Linked DNA regions of Homo sapiens: regions 2, 3, 4, 5, 6 and 7 are each linked to region 1. The links come from fine-mapping of genetic effects on gene expression. A gene starts in region 1. Each other region holds a variant in brackets. All regions are shown on one strand. Distances are from middle to middle.

Region 1 (4,091 bases):
GCCCGCCTTGGCCTCCCAAAGTGCTGGGATCATAGGGTGAGCCACGGTGCCCAGCCTCTTAAAAAAAAAAAAAAAGAGATGGAGTCTCACTATGTTGTCCAGGCTGGTCTCTTTTTTACTTCCTTTTTTTTTTTTTTTTTTTTTTTGAGACGGAGTCTCACTCTGTCACCCAGGCTGGAGTGCAATGGCGCGATCTCGGCTCGCTGCAAGTCCGCCTCCCGGGTTCACGCCATCCTCCTGCCTCAGCCTCCAGAGTAGCTGGGACTACAGGCGCCCGCCACCACGCCCGGCTAATTTTTTTTGTATTTTTAGTAGAGATGGGGTTTCATCGTGTTAGCCAGGATGGTCTCAATCTCTTGACCTCGTGATCCGCCCACCTCGGCCTCCCAAAGTGCTGAGATTACAGGCGTGAGCCACCGCGCCCGGCCCAGGCTGGTCTCAACTCCTTGGCTCAAGCTATCCTCCCACCTCAGCCTCCCAGTGAGTGGGGATTGCAGGCGTGAGCCACTGCGCCCGGCCAAAACCAATTCTATACATTTGTTTTTTTCTTTTCCGACTTTTGAAAACCATGACAAAGGGAGGTTTCTTCCCCCCAATACCAAACCTGGTGCCTTTTAAGCTCTCTGTAGGAGCTGAGTATGCCCTAGTTGAACTTAAGCCAACTACACAGAAATACCTGCAGGGACCAGGGAGCATATTCCTCCTCCTGTCAAATGCCTGGTGAAGGCAACTGTGATTATCAGCTTAGCAGATGAAAAAGTAGGGCTGCATTCCTTCAGTTGTTGGACCCAAATTCTGCCAGATTCTGACAAAGGGCTTAAAAGGAAGAATGTTTAGGCCAGGTGCGGTGGCTCACGCTTGTAATCCCAGCATTTTGAGAAGCCGAGGCGGGCGGATCACGAGGTCAGGAGATCGAGACCATCCTGGCTAACATGGTGAAACCCCGTCTCTACGAAAAATATATATAAAAAAATTAGCCGGGCGTTGTGGCGGGCGCCTGTAGTCCCAGCTACTCGGGAGGCTGAGGCAGGAGAATGGCGTCAACCCGGGAGGCGGAGCTTGCAGTGAATCGAGATCGCGCCACTGCACTCCAGCCTGGGCGACAATGAGAGACTCTGTCTCAAAAAAAAAAAAAAAAGAAGAAGATGTTTAGGACATGGTTTTTGGAGTCAGAGACGTATGTTCAAATTCTGGCTTCACTATTTTATAGTCTTTGGGCATATGCCCTTTATGTACCCTTGAAGATGTTGCTTAACCTTCCTGAGCCTCAGGTACCTCATCTTTAAAATGGGGATAATGTCTCGGGCCTAGCTGCGAGTCTCTAGTCAGTGCTCAGTAAAAAGTAGCAGACATGATTGAAAACTCGTTTTCCTCTTACAATTGAAGATAGGAACCTTTTCAAGAGCAAGCACCAGGCACCGAATTTAACGACTGGTTGCATTTCTAGGTGATCCAAGACCGTTTGCCCCCGGTCTCCCTGGCAGCACAGCGGTAGGAGATAAGAATGATATGACACCATGCTTGCAAAGTGCTCACAACACACTCCGGCGCTTAAAAAACGAGAGCTGAGTCATGGATGCCCAGTTTCCCCATCCGTAAAATGAGCAAGTTCGATCACTTGAAACGACATTCTTGGATCTTGGATGACTCAGATTTTCCAGGTACATGAGGAAAGGCACCCAGAGGGAAGGAGGAGGAGTGGCAGTGCTGCGACCAAGCCCAGGTTTAGCGAAACCTACAGCTCCACTAGTTCCCCTACCTCCGCAGGTGCCAAGCGGGTTAGGTGGGGAGTAGCCACAGGGCGGAGCTTAGTCGGCTCCGCCCCCAACCCGCGCTTTTCTCATTGGCCCACTGAACTCGAGACTCGTGACGCCTTAAGCGTGCGCCCAGCGTGTGAAGGGGGCGTGGCACGCTGAGAAGGAGCAGACAAGATGGCGACGTCCGTGGGGCACCGATGTCTGGGATTACTGCACGGGGTCGCGCCGTGGCGGAGCAGGTATAGCAGCGCGGAGAGACTACCTTGGGGCGTGGGGCAACCTGGACCAAGCTGGGGTCTGAAGAGAGATGTTTCTGTGTCGCGGGCTCGCTCTGAGGCGAGCTCGGGTGGAGACGGAGCCACCTTCACCTCGAGCTTAGGAGCAGGTGCGACTGCTCCTGCGTAGGGCGGTCCGGATTTACTTAGGGTGTGGCCTAGAAGCTCGCGCTTTGCCCTTTCCAGCTAGGTGGAAGTTCACGAGGGACAAAAATCAGATGAAATAGGCTACCTGCCCGTCTCTTGAGTCGAGGCAGGGCTTTCAGATGTTCAGATGCCATTTTCTCGTGTGTTCGTTTTCGTAGAAGGAATGATGTCCTGTGGGAAGGACACTAGATTGAGTGTCAGGCAACTTTCATTTCTGGATCTTAGTCTTTGAAGCTAGAGGGTTAGGTTAGGTAATCTCAAAACAATATGTTATGGGGCTAGAGTCTTGGTTACCCTTGTGACCCCCAGCTGTTAGATTCTTAGAAATGTGGGAGACTTGAGGGGTCTTCTGAGTCCAGCTGTCTCTCTTTGGAGTTAATGAGATTGAGGCTCCGAGAGAGGGAGGGATTTGCTCAAGTTCACCTAGCCAGTTTGTAGCAGAGCCCGGACCCCCATCAAGGTACCCCCTCACGCGACGATCTTTCTCTCAGGCTGCCCGCCGTGAGGGCAGTGGTTATACAGAAAATAGCTTAGAGCATTTGGAGTGTCGGAAAATGGATTAAAATGTAGCTGTGATTCAGAGTCGGCTGCCTGGTGTCATTTCAAAGAGCTAAGATTTGAGAGATGCGCCATACTTGTGTGTTTCCTACAGGGTTCATTTTGTCAGCGTTGATCAGAGGATAACCTATTGTTTTGGGAGGAGACGGACACTGGATTTGGACTGAGAGGGAACAGAAACCATCATTGGTCTTGTTATGAAAGCGTCACTCTTTCATCATTAACTGTACAGAAATGATTATCTCTCAGGAGAGGGCTCTGCATTGTGGTGGTAACTGTTAGAATTTGGGCAGGAGACTTTGTTTTCAATGTTATTACCAGGCGTGCTGTGTATGAGTCAACCCTGAATTCATTTAAAGTGTGTCACAGGCTGGGCGCGGTGGCTCACGCCTGTAACCTCAGCACTTTGGTAGGCCAAGGTGGGTGGATCACTTGAGGTCAGGAGTTCGAGACCAGCCTGGCCAATGTGGTGAAACCCTGTCTCTACTAAAAAATACAAAAATTAGCCGGGCATGGTGGCAGGCACCTGTAATCCCAGCTACTTGGGAGGCTGAGGCAGGAGAATTGCTTGAACCTGGGAGGCGGAGGTTGCAATAAGCCAAGACTGCGCCGCTGGAGTCCAGCCTGGGCGACAGAGTGAGACTCTGTCTCAAAAAAATTAAAAATAAATAAAGTGTGTCACGAATTGAAAGGACTAAAATGAGACTCTTAAAAAATTGTTTTTTGTTGTTGTTATTTGTTTTGGAAGTCAGAGCCTCACTCTGTTGCCCAAGAGGGAGTGCAGTGGTGTGATGATGGCTCACTGCAGCCTCCACCTCCTGGTCTCAAGCAGTTCTTCCACCTCAGCCTCCTGAGTAGCTAGGACCACAGGTGCACGCCACCCCGCCCAGCTGCATTTTTTTTGGGGGTGGGGGTGGAGACAGGGTTTCACCATGTTGCCCAGGCTGGTGTTGAACTCCTGGGCTCAAGTGATCCACCCACTTTCACCTCTCTAAGTGCTGGCATTACAGAAGTGAGCCATCGCAGTCCACCTAAAATAATTTTTTTAAATGATGAGAGGAGGCTGTACCTCAGTCACCATCATTAAAAGGGAAAGAAAAAAAGCTATGTTTTAGTACCAGTGTAGATAGATAAGGCTAGACTTAGATGCAGTGGGTGAGAGAGATGAAGATTTGGGTACAATAAGAAACCTTAATTTTCAAAGGTATTCTATATCAAGATAGAAATGATATTAATACACAAACCAAAAAGATAACATTTCTGTGGGTTTTTAGTAAACCAGTGCCTATTTGTGAGACATGTAAATGAAAACCTTATATTTCAGGTAAGTTTTTCAATAACTGGGTGATGTGTG
Region 2 (4,091 bases), 68 kb after region 1:
AAGATGACTGCAACTTCTCCCAATGCATGCCCCTCCATCTCACCCCTCTGTCCTAAGATAAAGTACACTGAACTTAAGGTAATTTCCAAAACTGTCATTTTACTAGTTCCATGTACCTGCTCAAATATCTTTCGAATATCTATCTATAGGGTCAGCCCAATCTCTTCAGTCTGGGCCTCCCCATCTTGCCCACTCCAGCCACCATCCTCACCCTCTCACTCACAGGAAGCCTCTCCCAGATACTTCCATGCTCAGTCTCCCTCAGCACTAGCTCTGAGCACTGGAAGAACTTGTGGCTGACATGACTGGGGACACGTGGATCTGTTCTCTTGAATTGGTTCTCAGTTGTTTCTTATCTCCTCACAAAAATTTCACCCTCCTACAAAGTCATCAAAAAGATCTTCCTCTTGATCAAGAAGAAAGCACCTGGACTTTGGAACTGGAGATGTGAATTAACCTGGCTGTACCACTTACTGGTTGTGTTACCATTTATCATTTTGAACCTGACCTCTCAGAATCACTGTGAAAAGGAAATTATTAATGAAGATAATGATGCCATGGGCAGAATGAGTTTATGTATTTGTTTTCTGTCTCCCATCACACAATGCCCAACACAGTGGCAGACATACAGTTAGTGATTAATAATTTCTTCATTACAGGCTGGGCGTGGTGGCTCATGCCTGTAATCCCAGCACTTTGGGAGGCCAAGGCGGGTGGATCACGAGGTCAGGAGTTCGAGACCAGCCTGGCCAACATGGTGAAACCCCGTCCCTACTAAAGATACAAAAAATTAGCCGGGCGTGGTGGCGCACACCTGTAATCCCAGCTACTTGGGAGGCTGAGGCAGGAGAATTACTTGAACCCAGGATGTGGAGTTTGCCGTGAGTCAAGATGGTGCCACTGCATGCCAGCCTGGGCGAAAGGACAAGACTCCAACTCAAAAATAAATAAATAAATAAATAAATAAATTATTATTATTTCTTCATTATGTCCCACCATATACTAAGAACCTGCTGTGGGCAAGTTTGTCCCTGTGGGAACTAAAAAGATGTAGATCTGCTCCTTGAGCTTTCTAATTTTTTTTTTTTTTTTTTTTTTTGAGACAGAGTCTCACTCTGTCGCCCAGGCTAGAGTGCAGTGGTGTGATCTCAGCTCACTGCAAGCTCCGCCTCCCAGGTTCATGCCATTCTCCTGCCTCAGCCTCCTGAGTAGCTGGGACTACAGTCGCCCACCACCACGCCCGGCTAATTTTTTGTATTTTTAGCAGAGACAGGGTTTCTCCGTGTTAGCCAGGATGGTCTTGATCTCCTGACCTCGTGATCCGCCCGCCTTGGACTCCCAAAGTGCTGGGATTACAGACATGAGCCACCAGGCCCGGCCTTTTTCTTTTCTTTTTTTTTTTTTTTGAGACGGCGTCTCGCCCTGTCACCCAGGCTGGAGTGCAATGATGCGATCTCAGCTCACGGCAACCTCCATCTCCCAAGTTCAAGCAATTCTCCTGCCTCAGCCTCCCGAGTAGCTGGGATTACAGGCATGTGCCACCAGACCGGGCTAATTTTTGTATCTTTAGTAAAGAGAGGGTTTCACCATGTTGGCCAGGCTGGTCTTGAACTCTTGACCTTGTGATCCGCCCGCTCCGGCCTCCCAAAGTGCTGGGATTACAGGTGTGAGCCACTGCACCCGGCCCGACCTTTGTAATTTTGTTGATGACTATCATTTCAAGACTTCAAAAAGCCAGGTCTAGCAGAACAGGAACTAAGTGTTTCGGGGAAATGACACTTAAGAATGTCTGCCAAGGTGAGGCAAGGTCCCACCGTGCTCTGATCCAGAAAGCTAATGGGCTGCTTTAATGGAGCTCTCAGTGGCTAATAATGAAGGTTACAAACAGGCTGTTTTGAAAGCCCTTGAAATAAAGATGGACACCTCCCTCTCCCTCTCCCTCTCCCTGTCCCTCTCCCTCTCCCTCGTCTCCGTCTCCCCATGGTCTCCCTCTCATGCGGAGCCGAAGCTGGACTGTACTGCTGCCATCTCGGCTCACTGCAACCTCCCTGCCTGATTC[T/G]CCTGCCTCAGTCTGCCGAATGCCTGCGATTGCAGGCACGCGCCGCCACGCCTGACTGGTTTTGGTGGAGACGGGGTTTCGCTGTGTTGGCCGGGCCGGTCTCCAGCCCCTAACCGCGAGTGATCCACCAACCTCGGCCTCCCGAGGTGCCAGGATTGCAGACGGAGTCTCGTTCACTCAGTGCTCAATGGTGCCCAGGCTGGAGTGCAGTGGCGTGATCTCGGCTCACTACAACCTACACCTCCCAGCCGCCTGCCTTGGCCTCCCAAAGTGCCGAGATTGCAGCCTCTGCCCGGCCGCCACCCCGTCTGGGAAGTGAGGAGTGTCTCTGCCTGGCCGCCCATCGTCTGGGATGTGAGGAGCCCCTCTGCCTGGCTGCCCAGTCTGGAAAGTGAGGAGCGTCTCCACCCGGCCGCCATCCCATCTAGGAAGTGAGGAGCGCCTCTTCCCAGCCGCCATCACATCTAGGAAGTGAGGAGCGTCTCTGCCCGGCCGCCCATCGTCTGAGATGTGGGGAGCGCCTCTGCCCCGCCGTCCCATCTGGGATGTGAGGAGCGCCTCTGCCCGGCCGAGACCCCGTCTGGGAGGTGAGGAGCGTCTCTGCCCGGCCGCCCCGTCTGAGAAGTGAGGAGACCCTCTGCCTGGCAACCACCCCGTCTGAGAAGTGAGGAGCCCCTCCGCCCGGCAGCCGCCCCATCTGGGAGGTGAGGAGCGTCTCCGCCCGGCAGCCACCCCGTCCGGGAAGGAGGTGGGGGGGGGTCAGCCCCCCGCCCGGCCAGCCGCCCCATCCGGGAGGGAGGTGGGGGGTCAGCCCCCCCGCCCGGCCAGCCGTGCCGTCCGGGAGGGAGGTGGGGGGGTCAGCCCCCCACCTGGCCAGCCGTGCCGTCCGGGAGGGAGGTGGGGGGGTCAGCCCCCCGCCCGGCCAGCCGCCCCGTCCGGGAGGTGAGGGGCGCCTCTGCCCGGCCGCCCCTACTGGGAAGTGAGGAGCCCCTCAGCCCGGCCAGCCAGCCCGTCCGGGAGGGAGATGGGGGGGTCAGCCCCCCCGCCTGGCCAGCCGCCCCGTCCGGGAGGGAGGTGGGGGGGTCAGCCCTCCCCCCGGCCAGCCGCCCCGTCTGGGAGGTGAGGGGCGCCTCTGCCCGGCCGCCCCTACTGGGAAGTGAGGAGCCCCTCTGCCCAACCAGCCGCCCCATCCGGGAGGGAGGTGGGGGGGTCAGCCCCCCGCCCGGCCAGCCGCCCTGTCTGGGAGGGAGGTGGGGGGGTCAGCCCTCCGCCTGGCCAGCCGCCCCGTCTGGGAGGTGAGGGGCGCCTCTGCCCGGCCGCCCCTACTGGGAAGTGAGGAGCCCCTCTGCCCGGCCAGCCGCCCCGTCCGGGAGGGAGGTGGGGGGGTCGGCCCCCCGCCCGGCCAGCCGCCCCATCCGGGAGGGAGGTGAGGGGGTCGGCCCCCCGCCCGGCCAGCCGCCCCGTCCGGGAGGGAGGTGGGGGGGTCAGCCCCCTGCCCGGCCAGCCGCCCCGTCCGGGAGGGAGGTGGGGGGGGTCAGCCCCCCTGCCCGGCCAGCCACCCCGTCTGGGAGGTGAGGGGCGCCTCTGCCCGGCCGCCCCTACTGGGAAGTGAGGAGCCCCTCTGCCCAACCAGCCGCCCCATCCGGGAGGGAGGTGGGGGGGTCAGCCCCCCGCCCGGCCAGCCGCCCTGTCTGGGAGGGAGGTGGGGGGGTCAGCCCTCCGCCTGGCCAGCCGCCCCGTCTGGGAGGTGAGGGGCGCCTCTGCCCGGCCGCCCCTACTGGGAAGTGAGGAGCCCCTCTGCCCGGCCAGCCGCCCCGTCCGGGAGGGAGGTGGGGGGGTCGGCCCCCCGCCCGGCCAGCCGCCCCATCCGGGAGGGAGGTGAGGGGGTCGGCCCCCCGCCCGGCCAGCCGCCCCGTCCGGGAGGGAGGTGGGGGGGTCAGCCCCCTGCCCGGCCAGCCGCCCCGTCTGGGAGGGAGGTGGGGGGGGTCAGCCCCCCTGCCCGGCCAGCCACCCCGTCTGGGAGGTGAGGGGC
Region 3 (4,000 bases), 880 kb after region 1:
TGTGGCCTCCCCAGCCATACTCAACTGTGAGTCTATTAAACCCCTTTCCTTTATAAATTACTTAGTCTTGGGTATGTCTTTATTAGCAGTGTGAGAACGGACTAACACAGGTGGAGAATCTGACTGGTAAGACCTTTCCTGACCGGGCACAGTCGCTCACGCCTGTAATCCCAGCACTTTGGGAGGCCGAGACAGGCGGATCACCAGGTCAGGAGATCGAGACCATCCTGGCTAACACAGTGAAACCGTGTCTCTACTAAAAATACAAAAAATTAGCCTGGTGTGGTGGCACGTGCCTGTAGTCCCAGATACTTGGGAGGCTGAGGCAGGAGAATCGCTTGAACCTGGGAGGCAGAGGTTGCAGTGAGCCGAGATTGCACCATTGCACTCCAGCCTGGGCAACAGAGCAAGACTGTACAAAACAAAACAAAACAAAACACCTTTCCTGATGCATGTTTTGCCCTGCTAGTCTCTCCAGCCTCATCTTGAGGCATCCCCACCCCACCCCACCCCACCCCCACCCTCTGCTCCTGCCACCAATGAGGTGTCTTTAGCTCTCTGAACAGCCAGGATCTCCCCAACCTCTGGGCCTCATTTTCAATTGTACTCCTCCTATCTTCAACAAGTGAATTCCTCCTCACCCTTTAGATCTCAGCTTACATATCACCTCCTCTAGGCAACCTTCCCGACCCTCAAAACTGGGCTAGGTGCCTTTCACCATGGTGAAGCATTGGGCCATTGCATCATGATTTTGTATTGGTTTGTCTGTCTCCCCACAGCAGGCAGTGGGGTCTCTGGCAGGTGTCATTGATTTTTGTTTTCCATGACTCCTCACCTCCTAGTGCTGTCTGGCACAGAGAGATGTACAGTCAATATTTATTGTAAATATTAACTGACTTAAAATACACTAACTGAGGCTGGGTGCAGTGGTTCACACCTGAAATCCCAGCACTTTGGGAGGCTGAGGCAGGTGGATCACTGGAGGTCAGGAGTTCGAGACCAGCCTGGCCAACATAGTGAAACTCCATCTCTACTGAAAATACAAAAAATTAGCTGGGTGTGGTGGCACACGCCTGTAATCCCAGCTACTCGAGGTTGAGACAGGAGAATTGCTTGAACCTGGAAGGTGGAGGTTGCAGTGAGCCGAGATTGTGCCATTGCACTCCAGCCTGGGTAACACAGCGAGACTTCTGTACACACACACACACACACACACACAAACTGTATTAGTCCATTCTCATATTGCTATAAAGATACTACCTGAGACTGGGTAATTTATAAAGAAAAGAGGTTTAATTGACTCACAGTTCTGCATGGCTGAGGAGGCCTCAGGAAACTTATAATCATGGTGGAAAGCAAAGGAGAAAGAAGCACCTTCTTCACAAGGCAGCAGGAGAGAGAGAGCAGGAGCATAGGGAAGTGCCAGACACTTATCAAACAACCAGATCTCATGAGGACTCATTCACTATCACTGGAACAGCAGGGGGGAAATCTGCCCCCATGATCCAGTCACCTCCCACTAGCTCCCTCCCTCGATATGTGGGGATTACAATTTGAGATGAGATTTGGTGGGGATATAGAGCCAAATCATATCACTAACCTCTATAAAATTTAGCAAGAAAGCAAACTTTCTAAATCAGAAAGATTAAGCCTGTTTTTTTTTTTTTTTTTGAGAC[G/A]AAGTCTCACTCTGTCACCCACACTGGAGTGCAATGGCGCGATCTTGGCTCACTGCAACCTCCACCTCCTGGATTCAAGTGATTCTCTTTCCTCAGCTTCCTGAGTAGCTGGGATTACAAGCACCAGCCACCATGTCCAGCTAATTTTTTTTTTTAGTAGAGATGGAGTTTCACCATGTTGGCCAGGCTGGTCTCAAACTGCCGACCTCAGGTGATCCACTTGCCTTGGCCTCCCAAAGTGCTGGGATTACAGGCATAAGCCACTGTGCCGGGCCGGAAAGATTAAGCATTAATGGGTGCAAGGTACTCTCTGCTCCAAAACAGGGCCCACATTACATTGGTTACAGAGGAAAGTTTAAATCTACAATTAAAATGTAATACCAAACAAAATCCCAATGAGGTATTTTTAATACAACTTAAGCTGATTCTAACATTTACATGGAAGAGAAAACTCCAGTACATTTTAAAAATTAAAGAACAGTAAAGGAGGCTGGGTGCAGTGGCTCACACCTGTAATCCCAGCACTTTGGGAGGCCAAGGTGGGCAGATAACCTGAGGTCAGGAGTTCAAGACCAGCCTGGCCTACGTGGTGAAACCTCATTTCTACTAAAAATGAAAAAAGTTAGCCAGACATGGTGGTGCATGCCTGTAATCCCACCTACTCAGGAGGCTGAGACAGGAGAATCGCTTGAACCTGAGAGGTGGAGGTTGCAGTGAGCTGAGATTGTGCCACAGCACTCCAGCCTGGGCGACAGAGCAAGACACATCTCAAAAAAAAAAAAAATGAGGAGGATTTATTCTACCAGCTGTCAAATTATATTATAAAGCTACAGTAATTAGGCACAGGAATTGATAAAATGTCAGTGAAGACGAGTATTCAAAATCAGAGTAAATGCTATTGAGAAAATCAGATACACTTTTAGAAAACATAAAAATTAGATGCCTTTCTCACAACTTGCAGAAAAACAAATTCCAGAAGGATACAATTAAAAGCATACTTGTCAACTGGGCACGGTGACTCATCCCTGTAATCTCAGCACTTTGAGAGGCCAAGGTAGTGGGATCACTTGAGCCCAGGACTTTGAGACCAGCCTGGGCAACATAGCACGACCTCGTCTTTAAAAAAATTTTTTTTTTTTAATCAGCCAGGCATGGTGGCATGTGCCTGTAGTCCCAGCTACTCAGGAGGTTGGGGTGAGAGGATCACTTGGGCCTAGGAGGTCAAGGCTACAGTGAGCTGTGATCATGCCACTGCACTCCAACTTGGGTGACAGAAACCCTGTCTCAAAATAATAAATAAATTAATAAATAAATAAATAAATCACACTTGTTGAATGGTTCCTTCTTTTCCAAGTGATTTGAATGGTACTTTTATCACTAAGTGAATTCCTACAAATACATAAATCTGTTTCTGGAGATGCCATTCTAGTGCTAAGAATGAAAATCTAGGATTTGTATCTGCAGTATTTTAAAAAACAGAGGCCTCTATGAAACTACCCACTCAGGACAGGACCATAGAAACCTACGTCAATCGTAAAGATGCCATCCCTGCTTCTGAAGCCTCTTCCTGGAAGGAAACAATCATTCTGCAGATACATGCTGAAGGCCACTTTCAAGTAACACGGTCCCAAGTGATTACAATGGGCATTTCCCAGACCCAAGCTCTCCTCTTCAGCACCAGTTGGTTTACCTAACTAGGCATTGCCCTAGGAAGCTTCCAGGGTCAAGGGGCAATGTTGCGAGCAAGAGCGCCAGGTTGAGAAGAGGCACATTTGCATCAAGGTGTCATGGTTTTTCTATTTCTAAGAAATCGCCGTAAGTTGCGTTCTTATGCCAGCATTCCCAACGGCAAAGCTTTTACATGACCAGGCAGATTTGGGAAGCAATAGTATTATCGGTATTGCAGTTATTAATTTATGTTTAGACAAAATATGCTCTCTGGCCTGGCGTAGTGGCTCACGTCAGTAATACCAGCACTTTGGGAGGCCAAGGTGGGTGGATCACTTGAGATCAGGAATTCGAGACCAGCCTGGCCAACATGGTGAAACCCCGTCTCAACTAAAAATACAAAAATTAGCCGGCCATGGTGGCACACACCTGTAGTCCCAGCTACTTGGGACTGAGGCAGGAGAATCGCTTGAACCCAGGAGGTGGAGGTTTGGAGGCTGCAGTGAGCTGCAATCACACCACTGCACTCCAGCCTGGGCAACAGAGCAAGACTCTGTCACCAAAAAAAAAAAAAAAAAAAAAAAAAAAAAAGCTCTCTGAATGAGACTCCCTGCCTCTGAGATGTGGTATTTTATGTCTTCGGGGAATGAAAACAG
Region 4 (4,091 bases), 56 kb after region 1:
ACAACAGCGCTGTCTTCACATTCCTCAACATGACTTGCTTCTGGGGCCCCACTTACCCCTGTCCAGCACCTTCTGGGCCTCCCAGATGGCACAGTCCTCCTGCTGTCGGTAATACATCTGCACTGACACAGCTTCCCGCCACTGGACCAGGACCTATGGGCAGGCAAGGAGCACAGCAAGAGTCACTATACCTCCTGGCTTCCGGGTCCACCCCAGGTCTGTGACGGTGGCTCCTGGAGAGGCAAGGCCAAGCTGTTGCCATTTGCTTCTCACACACGGTCCAGGAAGTAACTGCCTTGCACGCAGACCACTGAGCAATAGGACAGGGCCCCAGCCCCTCACAGGAAGCCCAGCATTTCAGCTGCTGGGACTCTTCTACCAGGATTTACATATCATACCATGCCATAAAGTAGTGAAGTCATTATATACATGGGTCTTAATTCTATTTTTATATATATATAAAATATATATATGTAATTTTTTTTTTGAGACATAGTCTCGCTCTGTCACCTGGGCTGGAGTGCAGTGGCATGATCTCGGTTCACTGCAACCTCTGCCTCCCAGGTTCTAGCGATTCTCCTGCCTCAGCCTTCTGAGTAGCTGGGATTACAGGCATGCACCACCACACCCAGCTAATTTCTGTATTTTTAGTAGAGACGGAGTTTCACCATGTTGGCCAGGTTGGTCTCGAACTCCTGACCCCAAGTGATCCACCCGACTCAGTCTCCTAAAGTGCTGGGATTACAGGTGTGAGCCACTGCGCCCGGCCTCTATTACTATTTAGTAAATGGAACACACCTACGTCGTATACATTCTTTTGTATGAGTGATGCCTACAAAATCACAATAACAAAACACTTGCCCAGGGAATGCCTGGTGCCTGCTCTGCGAGCTGTCATGAACTCCATTCCCACCAAAAAGGCCTCCTCTTCAAGCTCTGAAGCCAAGCAAAGATTCCTGTGTTCCTTCTTCCAGGGGAAGGGAGGCACAGGCTAGCTTCGGGTATTTTTTCTTTTCTTTTCTTTTTTTTGAGACAACCTTGCTCTGTTGTCCAGGCTGGAGTGCAGTGGTGCAATTCGGCTCACTGCAACCTCCACCTCCTGGATTCAAAGAGCCTGTAATCCCAGCACTTTGGGAGGCTGAGGCAGATGGATCACCTGAGGTCATCAGTTCAAGACCAGCCTAGCCAATGTGGTGAAACCCCATCTCTACTAAAAATACAAAAATTAGTCGGACGTGGTGGCGCAAGCCTGTAGTCCCAGCTACTCGGGAGGTTGAGGCAGGAGAAATCGCTTGAACCTGGGGGATGGAGGTTGCAGTGAGCTGAGATGATACCACTGCACTCTAGCCTGGGTGACAGAGTGAGACTGTCTCAAAAAAAAAAAAAAAAAAAAAAAGAAAAAAAGAAAATACTGGTTCTGATAAGAACTAGTTCACTTATGATGTGTTATGTTTCTATTTAATGCATATTGGTTTGTAATTCAGTAAAAAACTAAACATGTGCCCACATGGATGTTTGTGTGTGTGCTGGAGGAAAGTTACCCATTTTCTAGGTTCCTTATTCAGTTCAAATCTCTGGCACCACCCCCTACATCCCACGCCCTCACCAGAACACAGTCCCAACTCTCCTGGGTGACCAGCTTGCCTCCTTATACCTCACCTTGGAACATATGGTCCTTCTGTAATGAGTACTTGCTTGAAAGGTTTTTTTGGCTTCATCCACTCGGGCCATGGTGTTCTCTTTCCAGCGACGTAATGCCCCGCTGCAGATGCATGGGTGCG[A/G]GGAAGGCAGATGACACCAGGATAGAGAGAGAAGGGAGGCTTCTGTGAATCATTCCTACTTCTTCCCCTACTCCTGAGTCAGGGACTCTACACCTAAGAATGTCTGTTTCACCAACACCTATGTTTACTTGCACATCTATGTCCAACAAATGGCTACTGAGCAGCTGCTCTGGGCTGGGCACCAAGAGTGCATGAGGGACCCAGCACTGCTGGAGACCAAACTCCAGGTGCTACGGGGATAACAGGGCATAACCAGGCAGTGGCAACACAGGTGACTCACACTGTGATAAGAGAAGTGTGGAGAGACAGGGAACCTGGAGGAAGGTTGCCTACGCCTCAGCTTGCTGCTGAGTTAGCTCAGGGAGTTCTTGCTTATTCCACCCTGTCTGAAGAGCGGGATGGGTGCTCTATGGGACTCCATATGAGGGATGGAGGCATTTATTTTATTTATTTACTTTTGAGAGACAGGGTCTCACTCCATCGCCCAGGCTGGAGTGCAGTGGCATAATCACGGCTCACTGTGGCCTTGACCTTCAAGGTTCAAGTGACCCTCCCACCTAAGCCTCCCAAGTACCTGAACCACAGGCATACATGACCGTGCCTAGCTAATTTTTTTTATATTTAGTACAGACAAGGTCTCGCTATGTTGCCCAGGCTGGTCTGAAACTCCTGGTGTCAAACAGCCTCCTAAAGTGCTGGGATTACAGGCATGAGCCACCGCGCCCAGCTAAGGATGGAGGTGTTTAAAGTCCACGAGACCCACTGTCCATAGGCCACCAGGAGTATCATGTGCTGAACAAATACAAAGGAAGGAAATGAAAGGGGGCATGTGGGAGGACTGCTGGGAAGGAGTGAGGTTAGAGTTGGGCTTAGAAAGAGTGGCAGAAGCTGCAGAAGCACCCTCCACAGGGGTGAGTGGTGCAGATGGTCTGACAGGGCCTAGAGGTGACGCTGGAGAGTCAGTGACAGGCCTGCAGAGCAAGCTGGAAGGGGACTACTTGGAAATTGACAGGAAAGGGAGTCGCTGAAGCCTCTGGAGTGGAAGAGATGACAAGGTGCCTTGCAAAGCTGAATTTTGTAGGCGTGAAGCAGGGAGGAAAAAGTGCTCAGAAGAGCAAGACAAGTGGCCTTTAAGGCATGCAGGTAACAGCTGCTTTCCAAGGTCCTGCCCTGCACACAGCAGGGGCTTAAGACATGAAGGCGAACCCGTGAGTGAAGTGGAAAAGCCAAGACCATGATATTAGCGACTAGGAACCCGGGATCATCCCCGACCTGGCCCTCAGCAGGACCCCCTAAAAGGCTGGGGTTTGGAGTGCATTCCTTGTTCCCCAGCTGGAGCTTGGGAGGCGCCCGGGAGACTCACCGCAGCAGCTGCCTGTTGTGCTGGCTCTCCCTGGCTGCCACCTCCCGGAGGATGCTTCGCACCCTGCCCTGGTAAGTCTGTAGGGGACAAGGAAGACTGAGGCTGCTCTTGGGCCCACACTTCCCCCTGTTTAGGCAGGCCTCAGAGGTGCATCTACCACAAGGCTGCCATGCCCAGAGAACTCAAAAAGGGTAGGAAGAGGCCAACAGCCCCTGGTCCCAGGGCCAGCAGACCCTCCCAGACGACAGGGAGAAACTGTCTCACAGGCCCTCACCTCCTAAGTCAAACCATGGGACTCCAGGGAAAGGAGCTGCTTTCGCTACAAGGCTAGTACCCACAGACAGCACTTGTTTCCACTTGGCCAAGCAAGAATCAAAGAACCCTATGGCCTAAGGCCCGCTGTCCGGGGCACCTGCTTGGTTTGAGGTGTGTCACGTGACTCTGTTCTGGGACGGACAGGAAGAACAAGGAAGGAAAACAAAGTCTCCAGAAACCTCCCCTGTCCCCACAGCAAGATCAGGAGGGAAGCAGCAGTTCCTACCACCCATGCCTGCAGCGCCCTGTGCAGCACGCTGTGCTGGTGGTGCAGGTCTGCTCGCATCAGCTTCTGCCGCTCCGCTCCCCGCAGGGCCAGGCACTGCAGACAGAGGAGAAAGCAGCTACCGTGGGCTGGGGTCTGAGTTGGGGGTGGCTTCCTGCTTTGCCTCCATTTTATACATCATCTGTGTGAGTGTAAATTAACCTCTCTGGCCTCATCTATAAATACGTGCTTCTTAGGGGTTCTGTGATGATTTGATGAGGTAAGTGCTTGATTTGCGGTAAAAGCTCAATTAATGTGAGTTTAAACATGTTTTACACTCAGTAGGACGTAGGACTCCTGTAAATGGTTAGATCAGGAATTTTAGATGCAGTAAGTTCAAATAAGAACAGCCTAGGATCTGAAAGAA
Region 5 (4,091 bases), 26 kb after region 1:
GGAGTGAAGAGCTTTCCTCTTCACTGATTCAAGATAGCCAGTGCCGGGTGAGGGGAGCGGGACACTTGCTTCTTCAGAAGAGTGGATCCAAAAGTTGACCTCTTCCCCAGACTGAGTCAGCATGGGAAGAGAATTGTGCTTTCACAAAAGCAGAGATGCTTTTCTGTAGCTTTCACTGTTTCTTCTTTGCTCTGGAAAATGGAGGACGAAGGAGTTCTCAGGTCCTCAGTCACTGGAGTAAAGTGACATGCACGTCCCAGCGTGAGTGCCTGAATGGGTCTCTCAGGTCTGAACAGAACAGCCCTGTGGCTGCCGCGAGCTGGTGCAGGAGGAAGTACAGAGGAGGGTCCGGTTCAGAGTGGCGTGAGACCAGGGTTAGATGACTGTTGCCAGTTTAGGGCCAGTGAGAGATTTTTAATGGTAAATATGTAACCTCTTTTAAAAAAAAACAAAAACAAACAAAAAACACAACTTTTTCTTTTTTGAGAGAGTCTTGCTCTGTTGCCCAGGCTGGAGTGTAGCGGTGTGATCACAGCTTACTGCAGCCTCAACCTCCCAGGCTCAAGCGATCCTCCCACCTCAGCCTGCTGAGTAGCTGGAATTACTGGCGTGCACCACCATGCCCGGCTAATTTTTCTATATATATATATATATATATATATATATATATATATATATATTTTTTTTTTTTTTTTTTTTTTAATTTATTTATTATTATTTTTTTTTGTAGAGTTTTGCCGTGTTGCCCAGGCAGGTCTCAACCTCCTGGGCTCAAGTGATATAGCTGCCTTGGCCTCCCAAAGTGTTGAAATTATAGGCGTGAGCTACTGCGCCCAACGAATATGTAATCTTTTTAAAAAAAGGGAAAAGGTTGGGCGCGGTGGCTCACACCTGTAATCCCAGCACTTTGGGAGACCGAGATGGGTGGATCACGAGGTCAGGAGTTCAAGACCAGCCTGGCCAACATGGTGAAACCCCGTCTCTACTAAAAATACAAAAATTAGGCTGGGCGTGGTGGCTCATGCCTGTAATCCCAGCACTTTGGGAGGCTGAGGTGGGCAGATCACAAGGTCAGGAGATCGAGACCATCCTGGCTAACACGTTGAAACCCCGTCTCTACTAAAAAAAATACAAAAAATTAGCCGGGCGTGGTGGCGGGCGCCTGTAGTCCCAGCTACTTGGGAGGCTGAGGCAGGAGAATGGTGTGAACCTGGGAGGCAGAGCTTGCAGTGAGCCGAGATCGTGCCACTGCACTCCAGACTGGGAGAGAGAGTGAGACTCCATCTCAAAAACAAAAAAAAACAAAACCCAGAAATTAGCTGGGCGTGGTGGCGGGTGCCTGTAATCCCAGCTACTTGGGAGGCTGAGGCAGGAGAATCGCTTGAACCCGGAAGGTGGTTTTATTGTTTTGAGGCATGGCCCTGGGGGCTTGTGGCAAGGGCTGAGGTGTTTGGGGAGCAGCAGTGCAGGAAAGGCCTTACTCAGCTGGGCTTGCAGGTATGCTCACTCCTGTCTGAGCGCTGCTTCCTTGTTTCTAGCCTCCGTTTAGAAT[A/T]AAAAAAAAATGTATAGTACAGTATTCCAATTCATCAAAAGGAATAAAGACAGATCAGCCTGTCTGGTCTACCACCATTCAGCCTAAGCATAAGGCAGAACCCTGTGAAGTGGCCTGTGTCCTCCTTCTCTCCCTGTCCCCTTCCTGGAGCCCCATGGGCCTGTGCTCAGCACGCGTCCTGGCGCCGCGGTGTACCTGGTAGTGGGCAGTATCGGACGTGTTCTCCATGTTGGTGAGCGATGTACATGCTGTAGCTTTATTATTCTCATCTATAAATAGGGCCATTCATGCCCTCATAAAGTTGTTAAATAAGAGTGATGTGTATGTAAATACCTGGCCCCATGCTGGCAGGGAGTGGAGCTTTAGTACTATTTTACTTCTTACCTAATAGGTGTGAGTGTGGAAATGGGCAAATAGTCAAGTTGGCAGGGAAGCAGAGCCTCCTGCCTGCCCCAGTGCCACCTGAACTCCTGTAGTGTTCTTATGCCACTGGAACTGGCTGGCAGGGGCCAGCTCTGACCTCAGAGAATTGTGGGCTCACTCTAGGGCAGGAGGAGATCGCAGAGGGCGGAACGGTGGCTCATACAGCCATGCCCCCAGGTGGCCCAGGACCCACCTGGGAGCTACCTCCAATGGCTTTGAGCGGTCAGTGTGTGGACAAGCGGAGGGACCGTGTCTCAAGAATATGTGGAACTCAGCGGGGCATGGTGGCTGACGCCCGTAATCCCAGCACTTTGGGAGGCAGGCAGATCACCTGAGGTCAGGAGTTTGAGATGAGCCTGGCCAACATGGTGAAACCCCATCTCTACTAAAAATACAAAAATTAGCCCAGTGTGGTGGCAGGTACCTGTAGTCCCAGCTACTTGGGAGGCTGAGGCATGAGAATTGCTTGAACCCGGGAGGCAGAGGTTGTGGTGAGCCAAGATCATTCCACTGCACTCCAGCCTGGGGGATAGAGTCAGACTCTGTCTCCAAAAAAAAGACATGGAACTTAAACACAAGGCTAAACTTCTGGGCTGGAAGGAATCGAGGGATGGCCGACTCAAGATACCTGCAGCCCTGCATGAAGCTGTCTGCCAGGAGGCTCTACCTAAAAGCAGTTTTGTTTTGTTTTGTTTTGTTTTTTGAGACGGAGTTTTACTCTTGTTGCCCAGACTGGAGTGCAATGGCACGATCTCAATTCATTGCAACCTCCACCTCCCAGGTTCAAGCGATTCTCATGCCTCAGCCTCCTGAGTAGCTGGGATTACACGTGCGTGCCACCACACCTGAGTAATTTTGTATTTTTAGTAGAGACAGGGTTTCACCATGTTGGCCAGGCTGGTCTTGAACTCTTGACCTCAGGTGATCCGCCCACCTCAGCCTCCCAAAGTGTTGGGATTACAGGCATGAGTCACCGTGCCAGGCCTAAAAGCACTTTTTCTTTTTCTTTTTCTATTTTTTTTTTTTTTTTTTTTTGAGATGGAGTCTTGCTCTGTCACCCAGGCTGAATGCAGTGGCAATCTCAGCTCACTGCAACCTCTGCTTCCTAGGTTCAAGCGATTCTCCCACCTCAGCCTCCCGAGTAGCTGGGATTACAGGCGTGCACCACCACACCTGGCTAATTTTTGTATGTTTAGTAAAGATGGGGTTTCACCATGTTGGCCAGGCTGGTGTTGAACTTCTCACCTCAGGTGATCTGCCCACCTTGACCTCCCAAAGTGCTGGGATTACAGACACTAAGTCACCACGTCTGGCCTAAAGCACTTTTTCTGAATTCCACCCCAGTCTGCCCTTCCTGAGTGCCTGGGCAGGGCCCTTGGGGAGCTGCTGGTGGGGCTCTGAATGTGCCAGGGGTATCCGGGACATCTTGCAGGCTAGTGGGACTGCCAAAAACGATTCTCAAAGATGAGTGGGGAGTTGGGCAGGGATAGGAGAATCTGGTGTGTAGAGAAATAGCCTGAAGGCACTTTGTGCTTGCCTGGCCTCTCTGCCCAGACGTTGGGGAGGCTGATGCCTGCCTGTGGTTTCTTGTACTAGCCGTTAAGACCCCAGCCATCTTCCTTGAGGGGCTTCTGCCAGCCCCCAGGGAATGAGAATTAGCCAAGAGCCAGGAAATGAGAATTAGCTGAGGACACCTTTTACCCCTGTTCCGCAGCTACCTTCTGTTCCCTGGCACAGGGCATCCCCTTAGAAGTAGTGCATGAAATTCACACAGCTGGGACCTGGCAGAGAATACAGGTGGCTTGACTGAGGCAGGGAGGCCTCCATCTGCAGGTGGCCTGAGAGCCTGCAGAGCCTCACAGTGGCACTAGGTGGCACTCCCACCCAAGGGAGTCCTAACAGAGTGGGAGGCGTGGAAATAAAGGACTCCATGGCCTGAAGGAAATAAATACAAGGTAGGAAAGTAAATTTCCAGACAATTTTTTTTCCCTAATGGAAATTCACTTGTAAGTGATTGTTCAAAATCCAGAGGCATTTCCCCACTGAAAATATGTGTGGTGGAGGTCTGGTTGGAAGGTGGGGTAGTGCTAATCTCGGCCAACTTGTGGGCTGGTTT
Region 6 (4,000 bases), 390 kb before region 1:
CCTGAATTCTTACCACTGTCTATACTGTGTGGCCCCTGCACCAGAGGCCAGAATATAGACTCAGGTCTCAGGTGACACCACTAAGGGGGACCAGCATGAGGTTCTGGGGACATGTCCCTCTTCTCCCTCATTTCTCTTTAATTCAGCCCATATTTGTCAAGTGCCTTCTTGCAGTGCAAGGCCTTGGTGTTGTGAGGCCAAAAAAAAAAAATTAAGAAAAGCGTAGGCCTAGCTCTCATCACAGGGCACTGGGATAAGTAAGAGCACATGCAGGTAAAAAGCAAGTAGAGCAGGGAGAGAGGGCCAAATGGACCTGGGCCAGAAGAGGTAGGAATTGTTTCCCCCAGGCTTATGAAGAGTCAAGTACTTATCTTTCCTTCTCACTTCTTCCTGGAGTGCATCCCTGCCTCTCTCATGTCCAGTTGCCTGGTTCCCTCTCTTCCTCTCCAATTCATGAGCTCCCCACCCATGTGTTGGGACTACCAGGTTTTTCTAAGACACCCTTTGGCCCCTCTGGTGACATCATAAGTGGCTGGACTTTGACCTGATCATTAGGTTTTAGAAACATAACGATAAAATCAGATATATTTTACCCAAGAGGACTTGAAAAGTTTGAGAACCTGTCCTCTTTCTTCAGGGAAAATTTTCATCAGGGTCTCTGGTCGGCCCCAAATGAAATAATTTCTTGGTTTTCAGACCAATCTTTAGGCCACACCAATTGGCCTCATAAATTTCCATCTCAAAAGACAAGGAGAAAGAGACCTGAATAACCAGAAGATCAGAGGAAGTCTTAGCTCTGTCATTATCTTGTGTAAACGTGGGCAACCCATGGGGTTAATCATCATCTTCACTCTACTTACCTCACTAGATCATTGAGGATTCAATCAGATAAGTGATATGACAGTCCTTCAATAGGTTTCAGTTGCAAAGAAGAACAAGAGCTAAACCTGAGGGTTTAATGTGTGCCAGGCTCTGTTCTGAGACTGTCTGTGTGTGTCCTCAAAACAAGAAATCTGGCCCTCCACCTATTTTTGCAAATAAAGTCAGCCACATCCATTCATTCATCCATTTTCCTTGGATGTTTTTGTGTTACAACAGCAGAGTGGAATAGTTGTGACAGAGATTGCATAGCAGCAAAGCTAGAAATATTTAGAATCTGGCCCTTTACAGAAAAAGTTTGTCAACTATTTTGTTGTTGTTTTGTTGTTGTTGGGTTTGGGATTTTTGTTGTTGTTGTTTTTGTTTTTTGGGGTTTTTGTTGTTGTTGTTGTTGTTTGAAACAGGGTCTCACTCTGTCCCCCAGGCTGGAAGGCAGTAATGCAATCATGGCTCACTGTAGCCTTCACCTTCCCAGATCAAGCGATCCTCCCACCTCAGCCTTCCAAGTAGCTAGGACTACAGGTGCACACCACCACGCCCAGCTAGTTTTTAATTTTTCTGTAGAGATAAGATCTTGCTATGTTGCCCAGGCTGGTCTTGAACTCCTGAGCTCAAGCAATTCTCTCACTTCTGCCTCCCAAAATGCCTGGATTACAGGTGTGAGTCACTGTGCCTAGCTGAAACTTAGAATTTTAGTCCTGGAAGAGCCTTTGAGATTCCTTATCTGACCAGCTCCACATTATAGAGGAGACTCTCAGAGACTCAGAGATTAATGAATTGCCCAATGTCACAAAGCTGGAACAAGCCAAATCCTGTGGCTCCTTGTGCAGTTCCCACTCCCTGCCCTTTGGAATGCTTCTTTCTGAATCTAAGGGAGCTGATCCCATGGAGCTGGCTCTGCCAGTAGTCCTGGTAGGTGTGATCAAACTCTCTTCCAAAACAAGAGTCTCTCACTGGGCTGTGTACCTGGGGCCTCACTTCTCTGTGTAATTTCTGCTGCCAATATCCAAAGAGTGGGGAATTCCCCTTCGAAGCTCAGCCCCTGAGCTTCACAGCTTTCCTACCATCACATCTCCGCACAGACAGCTGTGAGTGAAACGTGGCAAACCCTGGTGCCACATAAAAAGGGAATCCTGGGCCACCAACCAGCCCACAGTTACGTAAGGTACAGTTTCATGGTTTC[A/C]TGTTACTCAGATGAGTTGCCTTGGCTTGCCTCAAGCATGACTCAGGCTTCCGGGGACCTCCCAGCCCAGATCCCTATGTAAGCTGACTCTTCTTGTAATTTCAATCCTGGAGTCCTTGCTCCTTCCCTCTGATTGTCCCTTGCTTCTATCCTCAAGCCAACACACAAACTGTTTTTCTCTCTGGGCCTCATTCAGTTTTCAGGAACAGAGTCTGTTTCCAGAGTTTCTGAATCTTCACCTGTTTCAGGTCATAACCACTCCTTTCAAAGCCCCCTAAACCCCAGGAATGCCCAAAACCAGTCTCTCCTCTATCCAGTATGTTTTCAGACTTTATGAGCTCTGATTTTCTCCTACTTTTCTTGTGGGTGACAACCCAAACCCTCTCTGTCTCAGGTATATCAACCCAGGTCAATACAAGTTGTTCCTTCTTCCAGAAGCTTCTCTGCTGCCCACTCTTCCTGTGGCACAAAGCGACTGGGATAAAGGCAGATGGAGGGGCAAAGGGCAAGTGAGATGTCAGCAGTGGAGAGCCTCTGACCCCTGTGATATGTTCCTTGGGCCAGCGCATTTGAGAACTAATATTCTGGTTATGGATTTATGGACCAATGATAGGCTTTGAACCAACTTTGTATTTTATTGAAGGACTCTAAGGGTGATTTATTTAAAGGCTATTCCCTTACTACAAGAGATTAAGGGTGCCCAGGAGACCCGATGAGCATGAGACTCACTGTCAAGAATCTGGTTGGGATCCTTGAATCCTAGAATCACCACCACCCAAAGCCAAGAAGAAAATGAGTTCCTAAAGGGAGTATCAGTTAAGCAGTTATGTAAATAGCATTTCAGAGAAAACTTACCGGCCACCACACCATACTTCGGCCTGCCAGGAAGAAGCCTCCAACAGTCCCACGATTGGTGGAAAACATAGCCTGAGGAGGAAAGGGTCAAAAATGTAATCGAAAACTAGAAGAGTGGCCTTGCCAGCCAAAAGGACATACCTCCCCATTCGTGCACCTTCTTCTACCCACTCCACTTTCTGAAACACTTTCACATTCCTTCTTCCCCTGCAGCCTCAAAAGACTTAGATGAAGGAGGCAGGAACCTACATTTGACAGACAAGGAAACTGAGGCTCAGAAGATACATACAGCTTACTGTAGGGCTAGTGCGAAATTAGCTTCCAGTATCACTTCCAGCAAGTCACTCCACCTGGATCTGCTTGCTTGTCTGTTAAATGGCAGGAATGGAACTTTTTATGCCTTTCTTACAAGCATATTGAGGTTCCTAATGAATGCTATATTTATTTTAGCCTCCTGAGTAGCTGGGATTACAGCCACATGGTGGCATGTGCCTATAATCCCAGCTACTCAGGAGGCTGAGGTGGGAGAATCATTTGAGCCCAGGAATTCAAGACCAGCCTGGGCAACATAGCAACACCCATCTCAAAAAAAAAAAAAAGAAAAAGAAATATCATACTTTTAAAAAGTACCATATGGGATGTGAGTTATATCTTTGTTACCAGAAAAGTGAAAAAATGCTCTAAGAATGCAAGGCATTTGTACTAAATATTAAATAAAAGACCAGACAAATTCAAGTCTTTCCTCTCTGAGGGTGTAGGTAGCAGGTTGCTGGAATCATCATATATATAGATATAGATATAGATATAGATATAGATATAGATATAGATATAGATATAGATATAGATATAGATTATATATAATATAGATTATATATATATAATGATTATATATATATAATGATTATATATATATATATATATATTTATTTATTTATTTATTTTAGACAAAGTCTCACTCAGTCACCCAGGCTGGAGTGCAGTGGCACGATCTTGGCTCACTGCAACCTCTCTCTGCCTCCTGGGTTCAAGCAATTCTCGTGCCTCAGCCTCCTGAGTAGCTGGGACTACAGGCATGTGCTACTA
Region 7 (4,091 bases), 180 kb after region 1:
AATCACTTTCACACACCGATCAGAGGTTAACATGTATATTTCATCTTTGTGTATGTTTCTATCTTTATGCTTACATCATTTTTAGGGAGATATTTCTCTTTCTTAGGGTAGGACTTATGTTTCTTTGCAGTAAAGATTAAGAACCTCAGTATTGTCCATTTTTGACAGTCCAGCCTCAGAATTCTGTCATACGTAGATAAATGTGCCTTGAAGAACTGGTTAAAAGCATTTTTTAGCTTAATGACAGTGGAGCTTAGATTTAAGTCTTTTCTACCAAATTAATTGGAAATAGGTTTACTTTCTACTCTTAAGAGGATTTAGTTAATGACAATTTTAGGATAGTGTTTAGGCAGTGTTAGGGTAGTGCTTTCATGGTTTTCAACACTCTAGTAATTCTATGCGGGACTTGGGGATAAAGAAGTCTTCTCCCTTTAAAGAGAGCTTGAAATGATTATGTGTTCCTAGCACTATAATAAATATGTTAGTTCCACAACTGGAATAATATTCAAACCATCCTTCTTCCTTGTCTATGTACTGAGATCAAAGTACTGGAATAAATAGACTTTAATGATGTTTCTGCCACTTCAAGTTCACGGGCTAGAAGATCTAGAAGCAGTAGAGGGAAACTGTTTTCACTGGTGATTTTGAGGTGGAGTTTCACTCTTGTTGCCCAGGCTGGAGTGCAATGGCGCCATCTCCGCTCACCGCAACCTCCGCCCCAGGTTCAACCTATTCTCCTGCTTCACCTTCCTGAGTAGCTGGGATTACAAGCATGCGCCACCACGCCCGGCTAATTTTTGTCTTTTTAGTAGTGACAGGGTTTCTCCATGTTGGTCAGGCTGGTGTCAAACTCCCGACCTCAGGTGATCCGCCCACCTTGGCTTCCCAAACTGCTGGGATTACAGGTGTGAGCCGGCCGGTGATTTTTTTTTTTTTTTAAATAGGTGGTGTATTCTGTGGAAACTTGTAGCTGTGTATGTTTACTTACAGGGTCAAAAAAACACGTTGGCCAGATGAGAGGGCCCCTTAACCATTGACCCTTCTTAGTTTAGTGTTCAGTTGCTTTCTGGGATAATGTTAGTAGTTTGTTGTTCAGAATTCGAAGAGTTTTTGTTTTTCCCCCATGAGTAGAAGAAGTATAAATGTTTTGGTCAGGTGCTTTTCAGAGTAATGTACCAGAGTTTCCTTTTGTGTGAAGACATCCTTTAGTTAGCTTGTTTCGCAAATGTTAATATGCCTGGGGGATCACCTTTAGGCCTTGGGAAAGGAATTCTGAGTGGTAAGCAGGGGTGGTCCTGAAGATTCTACTTTTTAACCCACTCCCAAGTGGTGCACATGCTGCTGGTCCACTGACTATACTTTAAGTATCAAGGCTTTGGTCTTCCTTAGAGAACTTGATAAATGGTGTTGGTGGTGTCAAGTAACTCAGATGCATAGTTATTCTTTGGGGTTCAGATGATGTTCATTGTGCTTCGAAGAATATTTTAGGACCTCAAGTTAGAGTCACATTGGGTGCATTCAGACCTACTCCTAAATCTCATTGTGGGATGGTTATAAATGGGTTTATCATATGCACCTGTTACCCTGAGGGTCTTGAACCCCTAAGTTATAAATGCTGGTCTGTTTTCTAGGCCACATTCCTAAGACCAAAAGCTATATTTTGGTAGTATCTAAGTATGCATTTTTAAAGTGATCGGATCATGTTGAAGGACTTTTGGAGGTTATAGAGTGGGGTCTCACCTGAAAGTTATGGTTTAAGAGTGGTTTAGACAGTGGTTCTCAAAGTGTGCTCCCTGAACTAGCATTAGCATCATCTGGTAACTTGTTAGAAATACAAATCTCAGGCCTCTTCTCAGTGGTATTAAAGGAGAAACTTGGGGAGTAGAGCTTAACCGTCTGCATTTAACAAGCTCTTCAGGGGATTCTGGCTCTGGTTCAAGTTTGAGAACCATTGGCTTAAGAAATGATCACCTGCTCGCTGGGTGTGGTGGCTCACACTTGTAATCCCAGCAGTTAGGGAGACTGAGATGGGAGGATTGCTTGAGCCCAGGAGTTCAAGACCAGCCTGGGCAGGATGACAAGACCCTGTCACTACAAAAAAAATTTAAAAATTAGCTAGGTATGGTGGCGTATTGCCTGTAGTCTCAGCTACACAGGGGACTGAGGTGAGAGAATCGTTTGAGGCTGCAGTGAGCCATCATCGCGCCATTTCACTACAGCCTGTGCAACAAAAAGAGACCCTGTCTCAAAAAAAAAAAAAAAAAAAAAA[G/AG]ATCGTCTCCTGGCAGTGGTGCTCATTCAACTTTTTCTTCACCAGAAGCCCTTGTTCACCAGTTCTGGAATATAGTACCTGCTATTCTGTTAGTGATGCCATCTTCTGCTTGAAATACAAAATAGAAATGTTTTAGGCCATCCCACTATTCAGATCCATGTGGTTTTCTTTTCTGTTTTTTTGTTTTGAGACAGAGTCTCTGTCTGTCGCCAGGCTGGAGTGCAGTGGCCCTATGTCGGCTCACTGCAACCTCTGCCTCCCGGGTTCAAGCAATTTCCCTACCTCAGCCTCTTGAGTAGCTGGGACTACAGGCGCGTGCCTCCATGCCCAGCTAATTTTTTTTACATTTTAGTAGAGATGGGGTTTCACCATGTTGGCCAGGATGGTCTCGATCTCCTGATCTCATGATCCACCCACCTTGGCCTCCTAAAGTGCTCTGATTACAGGCGTGAGCCACCACGCCTGGCCTCACATCCATGTTATTTTCGTCAAGTGAATAGACTAATCTGTTTTTTTTTGTTTGTTTTTGAGACCGCGTCTCACTCTGTCACCCAGGCTGGAGTGCAGTGTTGCAATCTTGGCTCACTGCAACCTCTGCTTCCCAGGTTCAAGCAATTCTCCTGCCTCAGCCTCCTGAGTAGCTGGGATTACAGGCACGTGCCATGATGCCCAGCTAATTTTTGTATTTTTATTAGAAACGGGGTTTCACCATATTGGTAAGGTTGGTCTCAAACTCCTGACCTCAAGTGATCCACCTGCCGTGGCCTGCCAAAGTGCTGGGATTACAGGCGTGAGCTACCGCACCCGGCCAAATAGACTAATCTTATAAAGGATACATACGTTATGCTGTTCTTCCTTTGCTCCTGTGTTTTGCCACTGATTCCTTATTAAATGACTGTCACCTGCCAGTTGGACAGGGAATAAAAGCAGAGACACTCAGAACATTCAGCTTGATACTGACCAGTGTTAAACATGCGTATTAAAGTTAAGTGAATGTTGAATTATCTTAGTTTAACTTCATGTGGAATTTTTTTTTTTTTTTTTGAGACAGGCTCTCACTGTTATCCAGGCTGGAGTGCAGTGGTACAGTTAACTCACTGCAGCCTCGAACTCTGCATTCATGCGATCCTTCCACCTCAGCCTCCTGAGTAGCTAGGACTACAGGTGTGTGTCACCACACATGGCTAATTTTTTCATTTCTTTGTAGAGATAGGATCTCATTATGTTGCCCAGGCTGGTCTCCAACTCCTGACCTCAAGCGATCCTCCTGCCTCAGCCTCCTAAAGTGCTGGAATTCCAGGTGTGAGCCACTGCATCTGGCCCCATGTGGACTCCTCATAACCTTGACTAGTTACAAAGTGGCATTATTGTAGTCATTAGTGTCTCCAGGGATCTTTAAGGGAGGCCATCCTAATTTGTGGCTGGTAGGCCAATTGGTCATAGCAGTCAGTACAGCCATGTTTGTCTTTCCTTTAAAACAATCAGGAAAATGGACAAGCAGTTGAAGTGACTGACTTGAGTCATCCTAGCCTTCTTGGATATAATCAGAAGACTTGAAGCCAATCCCCAGAGAAAAGAGTAACTGATTTAAATCCTAGGTTGAAACAGGAATCAGGTGGTCCCTTTTTCCAGTACAGAAATCTTATTTGATAACTAAATGTATCTTTTATAAACTGAGTAGTAACTCAGGTGGCATTTCTGTGACAAATTTAGGTATAAACTTCTTAAACTAATTTAAGGATACCTATTTATGTTGGAGAAGGTAGAATTATGGTATGAAAAGTCATTGGGAGGACAAGGTGGGAGGATGAATTGAGTCCAG

Which allele goes with the higher level. Alleles are on the strand shown, and positions count from the first base shown. SD is a standard deviation of normalised expression in the study named. Not every link is listed here.
For the expression in hippocampus of the gene that starts at base 1,925 in region 1, T is the low allele of the variant in region 2 and G is the other (moderate effect, 0.69 SD a copy in GTEx).
As copies of G replace A in region 3, the expression in monocytes after LPS of the gene that starts at base 1,925 in region 1 goes down (large effect, 2.0 SD a copy in Fairfax 2014).
In carriers of allele A in region 5, the expression in neutrophils of the gene that starts at base 1,925 in region 1 tends to be lower than with T alone (moderate effect, 0.52 SD a copy in CEDAR).
In carriers of allele AG in region 7, the expression in monocytes after LPS of the gene that starts at base 1,925 in region 1 tends to be lower than with G alone (moderate effect, 0.43 SD a copy in Fairfax 2014).

Evidence for each region. PIP is the estimated chance that this variant, and not a neighbour inherited with it, causes the effect. A credible set is the group of variants that fine-mapping cannot tell apart.
Region 2: its variant is the best candidate, but not a certain one, in a credible set for the expression of PISD in hippocampus (GTEx, PIP 0.70).
Region 3: its variant is the best candidate, but not a certain one, in a credible set for the expression of PISD in monocytes after LPS (Fairfax 2014, PIP 0.89).
Region 4: its variant is the best candidate, but not a certain one, in a credible set for the expression of PISD in cerebellar hemisphere (GTEx, PIP 0.63).
Region 5: its variant is the best candidate, but not a certain one, in a credible set for the expression of PISD in neutrophils (CEDAR, PIP 0.82).
Region 6: its variant is the best candidate, but not a certain one, in a credible set for the expression of PISD in whole blood (INTERVAL, PIP 0.62).
Region 7: its variant is the best candidate, but not a certain one, in a credible set for the expression of PISD in monocytes after LPS (Fairfax 2014, PIP 0.60).

What each region holds. Positions count from the first base shown.
Region 1 is chr22:31,660,049-31,664,139 of GRCh38, reverse strand. PISD (phosphatidylserine decarboxylase) reads left to right here and starts at 1,925. Exons shown (of 8, transcript NM_001326411.2): 1 at 1,925-1,996. The coding sequence starts at 1,932. RefSeq lists enhancers at 1,885-2,184, 2,425-2,474, 1,692-2,891, 2,865-3,004, 2,300-3,193 and 1 more.
Region 2 is chr22:31,591,863-31,595,953 of GRCh38, reverse strand. The region is part of intron 15 of SFI1 (SFI1 centrin binding protein); the gene reads right to left. Among named protein-coding and RNA genes, the nearest start is that of MIR7109, 28 kb to the left of the region's middle. RefSeq lists an enhancer at 2,503-3,311. The variant T/G (reference allele first, on the strand shown) is at 2,060.
Region 3 is chr22:30,783,238-30,787,237 of GRCh38, reverse strand. The region is part of intron 2 of OSBP2 (oxysterol binding protein 2); the gene reads right to left. Among named protein-coding and RNA genes, the nearest start is that of MIR3200, 54 kb to the right of the region's middle. The variant G/A (reference allele first, on the strand shown) is at 1,677.
Region 4 is chr22:31,603,999-31,608,089 of GRCh38, reverse strand. SFI1 (SFI1 centrin binding protein) reads right to left here. Exons shown (of 33, transcript NM_001007467.3): 19 at 3,686-3,781; 20 at 3,145-3,221; 21 at 1,660-1,762; 22 at 57-153. Among named protein-coding and RNA genes, the nearest start is that of MIR7109, 15 kb to the left of the region's middle. The variant A/G (reference allele first, on the strand shown) is at 1,782.
Region 5 is chr22:31,633,754-31,637,844 of GRCh38, reverse strand. The region is part of intron 3 of PISD (phosphatidylserine decarboxylase); the gene reads left to right. Among named protein-coding and RNA genes, the nearest start is that of MIR7109, 14 kb to the right of the region's middle. RefSeq lists a silencer at 3,691-3,740. The variant A/T (reference allele first, on the strand shown) is at 1,553.
Region 6 is chr22:32,048,932-32,052,931 of GRCh38, reverse strand. SLC5A1 (solute carrier family 5 member 1) reads right to left here. Exons shown (of 15, transcript NM_000343.4): 2 at 2,918-2,989. Among named protein-coding and RNA genes, the nearest start is that of SLC5A1, 7.7 kb to the right of the region's middle. The variant A/C (reference allele first, on the strand shown) is at 2,063.
Region 7 is chr22:31,481,388-31,485,478 of GRCh38, reverse strand. The region is part of intron 2 of EIF4ENIF1 (eukaryotic translation initiation factor 4E nuclear import factor 1); the gene reads left to right. Among named protein-coding and RNA genes, the nearest start is that of EIF4ENIF1, 6.4 kb to the left of the region's middle. The variant G/AG (reference allele first, on the strand shown) is at 2,270.